Linked DNA regions of Homo sapiens: region 2 is linked to region 1. A link means that fine-mapping ties the variant in region 1 to the expression of a gene that starts in the linked region. Tissue or cell type: testis. Region 1 holds a variant in brackets; the other region holds the start of a gene. All regions are shown on one strand. Distances are between the middles of the regions.

Evidence for each region. PIP is the estimated chance that this variant, and not a neighbour inherited with it, causes the effect.
Region 2: CXCL13 starts here. The variant in region 1 is fine-mapped to the expression of CXCL13 in testis (GTEx, PIP above 0.99).

The regions. Positions count from the first base shown.
Region 1 is chr4:77,431,695-77,436,905 of GRCh38, reverse strand. No RefSeq gene overlaps it. Among named protein-coding and RNA genes, the nearest start is that of CXCL13, 170 kb to the left of the region's middle. The variant G/T (reference allele first, on the strand shown) is at 2,895.
Region 2 is chr4:77,603,206-77,608,318 of GRCh38, reverse strand. It overlaps CXCL13 (C-X-C motif chemokine ligand 13), which reads right to left and starts at 2,499. Exons shown (of 4, transcript NM_001371558.1): 1 at 2,390-2,499; 2 at 484-616. The coding sequence starts at 2,453.

The sequences.
Region 1 (5,211 bases):
TACAAAAAGAAGGAAATTGTATTATATACAACAATGTGGATGAACCTGGAAAACACTAAGTGAAATAAGCCAGACACAGAAAGATAAATACCATGTGATCTCATATGTGGAAACTTAAAGAGTTGAACTCAGAAGCAGAGAGTAGAATAGTGGTTACTAGGGGCTGAGGTGGGGATTACCAAATATATGCTAGTCAAAGGTAAGAAGTTTCAGCTAGACAGGAAGGGTAAGTTCAAGAGATCTATTGCATAGCATGGCAACTATAGTTAATATATTGTATATTTCAAAATTGCTAATTTTAAATATCCTTACCACAAAAAAGAGAGATAATAGATATTTTAGATTGATTTAGCCATTGTACAAAGTATACAGGTATAAAACATCACATTGCAACCCATAAACATATTTTCGATTAAAAATAAATCTAAAAACTTGTAAAGCAAAAATTAAAAATCCTTAAGTGTAAGAACCAGAGGGCCTCTTTGGCAGCTTATCAAGAGGCCCTCATCTCCTACAATAAAAGAGTAAACACAGCTCAACAAAGAAGTGAGAAAAACAGAGCTTCGGTGGGAAATGAATGTGCCCAGCCAGCTCGTGTCTGTTATGTTCAGGTCAGGACCTTGATGGGGAAAACTGGGGGATGGGGACATCTGGATGGATGCCTGAGAGTCTTGGCTCTACAGACCCCCTGAACCCTCAGTTTACAGAGGCGGCTTACTCTTCCCTAGTAAGTGCTAGCACTTCCCAGTAAAGGCCTATGTCACCAAGGCCTGCAGGAATGCACTGAGCATGGGGCACCAGTACCACTCAGAAGTTCTATCTGTTGCAATATGATCTTGTTTCAGGGCCAGCGTTGGCTCTCCTCTGCAGACCAGGGCTAGGCTCATGTATATCCACATGGGCTATGGCCTTCCCTAGGAGTCAAGGACTCAGACTTCCCATAGATAAAGGTCTGGGACACCAGGCAAGCTCTCTAGCCCAGGAGAAGTACTAAGGCAAGGGTGAGGATAATCCTGAGTAGGCAGTAGAGAAAGAAGAAAGCCATGTATGGCCTCAGGACCAAGTGCAGCAGTAAGAGGTAGAGCTAATCCTACTAACTGCTCTCCCCTACATGCACTTGACATCCATCTGAGTCTCAGTTTATTCCAACCTGTGATGGCATTGAGATGGTAGCCTGTTTCTATATGGTGAGATGACGTCTACTTCATTGGATTTTCGTGAAGAGTAAATGAGCTTATATACATGGTACATAGTATACATATGTTTGGCCTCTTTATAGAATGTTTTGTCATCTATGTCTCCTGTTACATGGAATTCCCAAGCTGTGCCTCCTAATTTAGTGAAATAGTACCCCAAAATGAAGGTACTGCAATCGTGAGCAATGATAGAGGGGTCACATGGTTCTGAACACCAGCCACAGAGGCTGCTGACAAGTGAATCCTGTCATCCTGGTTCAATTCCCTGCTTTAGAAGCCGCTAGATAAGTTGATTCTGAGAACCAAGATGTTTCTGAGAAGCTGGTTGTCATTTGTGATTGTTCTACATCCTTCTCCCAAGATTTTCCTTTCATCATTTTAATGCAGCTCTTAAACTTGAGTCATGACAATGATCAGCAGGCTCTCATGAATTTTGCTGCAGCAAGGTGTTGGTCAGAAGTTGGTAACATTCAATCCTTTCCAATTTGTCAGGTTCTCTGAAAAGCAGAGGCTGGGAGAAAGGTTTTGGAGTGAGAGGTTTCCTGGGGGTACTGCCTGTGAACAGTGAAGGGTGAACACAAGGTCAAGCCAGTGCATTAGTTTCCTCTTGCTGCCATAGCAAGTTACCACACTTACTGGCTTAAGACACTAGTTTATCATCTTATGGTTCTGGATGTCCGAAATAAACAGGTTTCTCTGAGCTTAAAAAGTCAAGGTCTTGGCGGCAGCCTGCGTTCCTCCTGAAAGTTCTAGGGGAAAATCCACCTACTCACTTTCCAGCTTCTAGGGGCTGCCTGTACCCCTTGGTTTGTGACCTTGAATCATTCTAACCTCTGCTTCCTCTCATTCTGACTGATTATCCTATCTCCTCTCCTTTTCAAGTACCCCTGTGATGCCATTAGACCCACCCAGATAATCCAGAATAATCTCATCTGAAAGTCTTCAACTTAATCACAGATGACAGTTCCTTTTACCATGTATAGAATACTCGCAAGTTCATGGGATTGGAATGAACATTTTGGGGGCATTATTCCACCCATCATAGTGAGGAAAGCCTTCAGGTGGCTGTGCAGATCTAAAGTGGGGAGGAGGACTAGGCATAGAGACTTCAGTTCTGAGGCCGATCTGACAAAGTCTCCACCAGTTAAAAATCAGCAGAGTCATGTATTTTGGCAGAAATAGTCTCTAATTATAACTACCAGACTCAGTCGTTGGCTGGAAGCTGCCCACGAAGACCATGACCTTGGCTTGAAAGCCCAAGTGGATCCGGAAGGACAGCTGGAGGCTTTCCACCATCTGCGCTCATAATAGCTGAATAAGAAGTTTTTCTATGAAGGGAGATCCATGTAGCATTTTCTATGGCCACATCTTTAGTGACTGCACGAATTGAAAGGTACATAGGGATAATAACAAACAATATGGAAGGACAATCCTATGCTAGATTTGTTACCTCTGTTCTTGGATGTGTTACCCAGCATGAGTATCAAAGGGGTTTTGCCTAAGAATCTACCCTACAGAAATAGGAGCACAGAGAAGCAAGGGTATGTTATGTTTCTTCACTGCATCATTTTTAATTGCCAAGGAGATGGACAACCTAAATGTCTGTCCGTAAGGCAAACACTAAGTTCCAGTTCATTCATACTATAGAATACTGTGCACATATTAGGAATGAGTGGATCTTTATTGATAAATTGCCAA[G/T]ATACATCAAGTATAGATAGGAAATTGCATAAAAACATAAGTTATCAGCACTTTTGTGAAAGCTTGTTCTTCTACTTAAAGTATTTTTAAGTAATCTTTTAACAAGCAAGTGGGATGGAGAGGTGGGTAGTGAGAAAAGGACTTTGAATCTCAAGAGGAATATGTAAGACTTTCTACCAAAAAACTGCTTTTCTATTTCTAAACTTTTAAAAAGCAACAAACATTCTGATGGCTGCCATGAATGTTCACATTCTAAAGTTATTTTCAGCTAGGAAGTCAACTCCAAATAATGGAAAAATAGAAAACTATGATTTATCTGGTTGTACCCTTGGCATAATGCCTATTTTTCCATGAGACCTCAGCAGAATTGCCTGAGAATCATGAGGGGCGTTTCTTTAGCCGACATCACTGTGAATTTCCTTGTATCACCAGAAGAGGGCAAAGGTGGATAAATTATGGGACAGCTGACACTAAAGGCTCAGACTTACAGAAGTCACTTTCATTTTCCTCTGCAAGGCTGGAACTGCTGCTCTTGGCATTCTTGAACCTTAGAAGTGGTATCAGATATTAAGAGGGTGTATCATGCAAGGTTTAACCAGAGAAACAGAACCAGGAGATACATATTAATACATGTTGAGATTCATTGCAAGGACTTGTTTTATGCAATTGTGGAAGTTGGCAAGGCAAGCCCATTATCCACAGATAGGGAAGGCTTTCAGGAGGAACAGGCAGGAACTCAGGGGCTGCTGAAACTTCTGACCACAGCAGAATGTCTTCATTAGGGAAGCCTCAGCTCTGTTCAGTCCTTTCAAATGATTGGATTAGGCCCATAAACTTTTCTGGGAGAATATCCCTTACACTTCAAGTCAACTAATTGTGAAGTTTAATCATACCTACATGACACTTCTAAAGCAACACCTACATTAGTGTTTTTAGAACTGGGGACAGTGGTCTGGCAACGTAGGCATATCAAAAAATCATTACAGTCTACCCTTATCAACTTGGCACCCTTAGGCCTCACATTAAGACACAGTTAATCTCCAAATAGATAGTCAATTCTGCCTAATATAATACAGCTGTCCCGTGTACAACTGAAAACACAGTAACCCTTTCCCCAAAAGAGGGCGCAAGTTTACTTGGGTACAGTTTACTCTTCTTTAATATGTGATAGCTTGAATACTACCATAACAAATACTAGGTCAACTAGTATTAACATTTATATTAGACTGTAAGAAGATGAGACACAAATAGTTACTCTATATGCAAACATTCCTAACAAATATTTGTAACTGTCAGTGTCTTTGTTTCTACAACTAGTCAGATGGTCAGAGCTAGTATTTATAACCACCTTCTGCCAACCCCCCCTTCCATATTTCCTTTACCTCCAGTAAGTACTTCAGCAGGCTGTGGTTCTTTGCCGTATTGGGTAACCCAACCTTTCATTCCTGAAAGGTGTGGACCATTAGCAATCCCTTCTGAATGGAGTGGGTATGGTATTCACTTGACTGATCACAAGACATGGTGGTGCCAAGAGACACCCTAAGGGATCTTGGGTATTCCAGGCATATTAGACCTTACCTCCTTGTGTAGCAGTCCAGTTTCCCCTTGGTTGTCAGGAACAATCGCCCTAACCAGTACAGCAACTCCTTTACTTTTGAATCAGAGGTATGAGGCAGCCGGCCATCTCAACTTTAACAGAGTCATTATTTTGTCTCCTGGTAGAGTCATTCCTCCCTTAGGCTCTGCTGTCTAGGGGTCTTAGTTCCAAACTCCTTGGGAATAAAACAATTTAGTAGATCACTAGGGGATAATAGTAAAGTTATTTGTATTTTCACCCCTTAATTCTTACACCCTTGAAACCTGGTTATGGGAGAAACAGTTATATTGGACAGTGATTTAAAGACTACATAGAATCCTAGAAGCCTTAGCTTGAGCCCTGCAAGGTATTGCCAATAGCTGACGCCGTAATTTAGTTTTCAAAAGGCCATTTCCACCTTTCAGGCCAGTCCACATACCTCTCCCTGATACCTTATTGTATCCAGTTTTCTAATTTTATTCCTTCTACACTTGTATTCCTTCTACACCCCTGACCATTCAGCCAAAACATTGGCCACAGCTTAGGAACTATTACAGATTCTTACCTCAGGCCCTTTCCCCTTCCAGGCAAAATGAACAATCAGGTTTACTGTTCAAAGTTCTGGCTGCAGAAAGGATTTTCCTTCATCAGCATTCTTTAAGGATGTCCCAGAAATAGGCTGTAGTGCTGCAGCTGTCTACTTGTGATGCCTGTATATCATGGAGAGTCATTTGTAAACTG
Region 2 (5,113 bases), 170 kb before region 1:
ATAGGCATGAACCACCACACCCGGCTAATTTTGTATTTTTAGTAGAGACGGGGTTTCTCCATGTTGGTCAGGCTGGTCTCGAACTCCTGACCTCAGGTGATCCGCCCTCCTCGGCCTCCTAAAGTGCTGGGATTACAGGCGTGAGCCACCACGCCTGGCCACTAATGCACTTTCTAATCCTTTCTGATGGTGTGTCTCAGGCAGTTAGTTAACCTTCCTAAGCCTCAGACTGTAAGGAACAATAGACTTACCTTAATAAAGTGGTTGAATAAAGAAAATGAGTATGTGCATGTAAAGCACTTAGCTCAGGGCTGCTGCAAACTAAGCTCTTAATTATTAACAATTTTCATTATTAGTTTGAGAATTTTTAGCAACACTCAAGTAAATCTCTTCGACATTCTTGAGTAAGACTACTGTATGGTAACATTTGATCTGATTTCATTGGGAGAAGGAAATCTTATTTATTTTTCTCTTGAAACTTACATGATTTCTTTTCTTGGACAACCATTCCCACGGGGCAAGATTTGAATTCGATCAATGAAGCGTCTAGGGATAAAGACTGAGCTCTCTTGGACACATCTACACCTCAAGCTTGTGTAATAGACCTCCAGAACACCTGTAAGTAAACACAGAATCAGTTATTTTAATCCATTGGCATGTAATTCATAACTAGAATTTAATTACTAATCTTTCATAACGTGCATTTGAAGACTTAAAAGTTTCAAGTCAGTGCTTCCACCCATATGTCTTTAGTTTGTATATTTCTGCTTGTCTTGGCTTGAGTATTTTCAAATGTTTTCTACCAAAACTTTAAAAATAAAGTTAGCTTTTAGGCCAGGCACAGTGGCTTACACCTGTAATCCCAGCACTTTGGAAGGCCAAGGTGGGAGGATTGGTTGAACCCAGGAGTTTGAGACCAGCCTGGGCAACAAACGGAGACCCCATCTCAGAAAGCAAACAAACAAAGCAAAAAGAAAACAAAACAAAAATTAGCTTTCAAAAAAACACAGCAATTTTGAAATTTGTGATAGTGTTATATTTGTACTCAGGTGATAGTCCACATAATAAAATTTGAGAACAGCCTCTGTAGGGACTTACAACTCAGTTATAATTAATGCAATATAAAACCAGTGGATTATCTTCACTCCCAACACATAAAAACCGAGGACATGACCTGGCTCAAGAGTCCTGGGAGCAATAACATGCTGGAACAGAGTTTTCTCTATCAGACTCTCTGCCATCCTCCCCTTTCCTCTCAGAAAATGTCACAGACGTTTTTGTTTGATATGTTGGTCCTCTGTCTGGGTTGCAAATCATTACAGAACAAAAGGCAATCATAAAAATTCAAAAGTCTTTTTATTTAACAAAAGCAATTAATACTGGATGGGTACCATTAGTATCCATCTCATGAATTTTAATGGGATCTAATGAAATCTAAGCCAAAGACATTTATCAGATCTTTTCTATCCAGCCTACTACTGTGCTTGACATACATTTATAAATAAAAAGGCTCACCTCTCAAGGTGTGTACAAGTTAGTAGGGGAAACAAGCAAACAAAAACTAAAATACCACAGAAGGTTGTATTACGCTCAAAATCTAACATGCATGCTGAGAACAGAAGATGTACTAAGAGCTACCTCTGCCGGGAGCCATGGGAAAGCCCCGTGGAGAATGCAAGAAATTAGGGTTTTGAAGAGTGAAAATAACATGTGAAGCAAAATTAAAACTGGGGGACAAAGCTCCTCTGTGTTTTAAGAACAAAAATTTGGCCTTCTAAATCTGAGCAGAAGGCTTCTTTCTGCACATATCCATTTCTTCGGCCACATAAAAACTTACTACTTCAACTGGATATTTATCTATTGACACAAAGATAGCTGCCCCACTTAGACATGGAAGTCTGCTTCTTTGCAGAATGTGTGTAAATACCCCTGGTGTACTGACAGTGGTGTACTTGATGTCAGATCTAACCATTTGGAGTTACATGAAGCATGTTCACTGCAAGAGACCAGTAGAGTTCAATAATCTTTAAACCCTGTATAGGGTTTGGTCAGAGTGGGTAACATTGAGAGGCAGAACAAAGAAGAGCTACATGTAAAGAATTATATATAGCAGGAGCTGAATCAGAAAAAGGCTGGGAATATATAATTCACATGAATATTGGACTTGTGGTATCTCTTTTTGCTATAAATAAAAATCTTAACAATATAAATACTTCCAGTTTTGAAGAGTTAAATTCCTAAACACCTTACTTTGAGAAATCTAGAAGGAACAGAGCAGTTTTTTCCCCCTTTAGTCAGACTTCCCTGCGGTTTTTAATCGAAAGAAAATTGAAGTGGTTAAAGACTATTTCTGTTCAACAAACAGTGAAATGTAAATGAAATTTCTCACCTTGGACTGGAGAGAGGCTGCTGACCAGCAGCATGAGAAGCAGAGATGTCGAGATGAACTTCATTCTGTCTGGAGGTAGAGTTCAGACTTGAGCTCTGAGTCCAGGCTGTGGGTTTGCAGTACCAGAGACTCCTATTTATTTATACCAGTAAGGGCCCTCCCACTGCCTTTGTCTCCAGTAGGTCAGCTGCATCATCAGCTTTAAAAGCCCCCAAATATTGCTGAGCTTGCTTTTTTAAAACTTCTCTTGCAAACTTTATAAATTTGTTTCAGAGCACTATAATAAAATATTTCTTGCAAACATGGACTATAAGTGCCAGAGACACTGGAGAAATCTGAGGGTGGGGAGAAAGGATAATCTATCAGCTTGGAAGCTCCAAAGCACTGTCTTTAGTAGCGCTATTGGTGATGGTGGTTTTGAGTGCTTCTCTCAGTGCAGGGTGAGCCAGGTTTCTCAGTGGCATTAGATATATACTCCATGACATTGGGGACTCCGTCGAGCGCATCACGTCCCTAGCATGTGGAAGGGATTCCGGCCTTTGGTAGGTGCTCAGTAAATATTTGCACAGCAAATGAATGTCTCTTTATATACAGATCCTAACGCTGATTATGCTATTGATTTTCCTACCAGTCTTTTCCATCTCTTATTTTGCTATCTGAAATATATGATTACTTATATAATCTGACCATCATGGAATTCTTAGAAGGGGGCAGTAGGAGTCCCCTGCTTTGTGTGCCTGTGTCTGCATGAAGGGAGGGAGACAACAGCCTTGAGGAAGAGAATCTCTCTGGCTGTCGTGTGCAAGTCCATGAGCTTGAGAACCATGTGGCAGGGGAGGGAGTCATTAGAACTGCATTAGAGGGTGAACCCCATATTACAGTCTGACATAAACATATGTGAAGTTAGGTTTTGATCCCACCAACTAGTCCATGGGGACAATCAGCCCACAGCTTATCCCATTTTCTAGAAGCTCTTTGATTAAAAAAAAAGTATGTAGACTGGCTAGTCTGGCCTAGAGTACCACTAAACTGCCCTGGAAGTGGACAAGGATGATGTATCAAACCAGACCCACTGATCTGCTAAGAAATCAGAGGTTTGGGCTTCCTGGCGCGATTTCCTAAACAATTTGGTTTTTGCTAATCAATTAGCATTGTGGATGTTTAGCATCCCAGGTGCCTCAGTATTCATGGGGGTAGAAGTGGAGGAGTGGTAATGCCACACAACCTTCACACAAAAGCAGTTCTCCAGTCAGCCTGAACGCAGTGACAGGGCACTCATTGATCTTGAGGCAGGTTATTCTATTGTTTGGCACTTCTAGTTGTTACGATGTTCTTCCTTATGTATATGTGAAAGCTGCTTCCCTAGCAGTTTGTTTATGCTTGTGTTGTGATAAGGGGTTGAATTTTGTCCTAATTCAACCCCTTATCACAACACAAAACAATTCTAAACAGTCTTCTATATGATGGCAATCCAAATATATGAAGGCAGGGTGTGCCAGTTGTGTCCTCTGCAAAGCAGATGCTGAGATGGACATTGGAGTAAAAGAAGGTTATTCAGAACAACTCCTGCGATAGACAGAAGGAGGAAGGAGGCTGAATTGGGCAGGGGGAGCCTCAGATTGCAATGCTGATCTGGTGAAGTCTACAACAGCTCAGTGGGGAGCTCCAGAGGAAAGACTGTTTATTAGAGGGGCCCATGGTGGGCAGAAATGTTCAGACTCTTCTACCCCAACCGTGCTCGGTCCTTAGCTGGGCCTCCTCAGAAACAACATGGTCTCTGGTTGAAAGCTGAAGCAGAGCCCGAGGAGGTTATCAGTAGAGGCTGTCAGCTAACTGCACTCCTTGCCGCTGGCCAGCAAGTTATTTCTTTAAGAGAGAGTTGAGTAGGCCACCTTTGAGTGTCACTCAGGGTTATAAACTAGAGGTTAACAGCACAAAGTCTGAGCTCAGCCTGGCAATGACTTTGGACAGGTCACTTAATTTCTCTATGCCTCATATTTACCACTTTCCACATGAGGATAATAGGAATTCCAAAGGGTTGTTTGGAGAAGAAAGCACCTGGTATATGTAGAGGGTTCGGCCAAATACTGGCATGTAGAATGTATTCAATAAATAGCCTGCCTGTCTGTCTGACTATCTAATCTGTTTGGGAAAAAACTGCTCCATTGCTTCTACATTTCTCAAAGTGAGGTGTTTAGGGATTTAACTCTTCAATCCATCCACCACCCCCATCCATCCATCTGTCCATCCATCCATAAAAGATCTTACTAACTTCCACTCCAAAACCCACTTCAAAAGTAAATACTCCTATTTCTTTGAATTGATAACAGTTTGAAACTCTCTCACCATCTTGGTTTACCTTTTTGAAACCTGTTGATCTTTTCCATTGTTCCTCATAAATTATAACTACCTTCCCTTTTGCCTCTCCATCACACTCTCTGACTCACAGCCACAGACACGCATACACTTAAATGCATACATCTGAACATTGTATTACCTCAATTATGGCTTTGCCAGTACAAGCTAGAGGAAGCCCATTACCTCCTTTGTCCTAGCACTATTCTTCTATTAATAGATTCCTAGACTGAATAACATTATTCTAGTCACTTATATTGAGTTGGTAGGCAATAACATTCCTGTTTTTGAATGGTCAATTTCTTACAGTGTCTAATTCATTTCACTCTTTTGTGATATGATCTTGAGACCCAAGTATAGAAGTTTTAC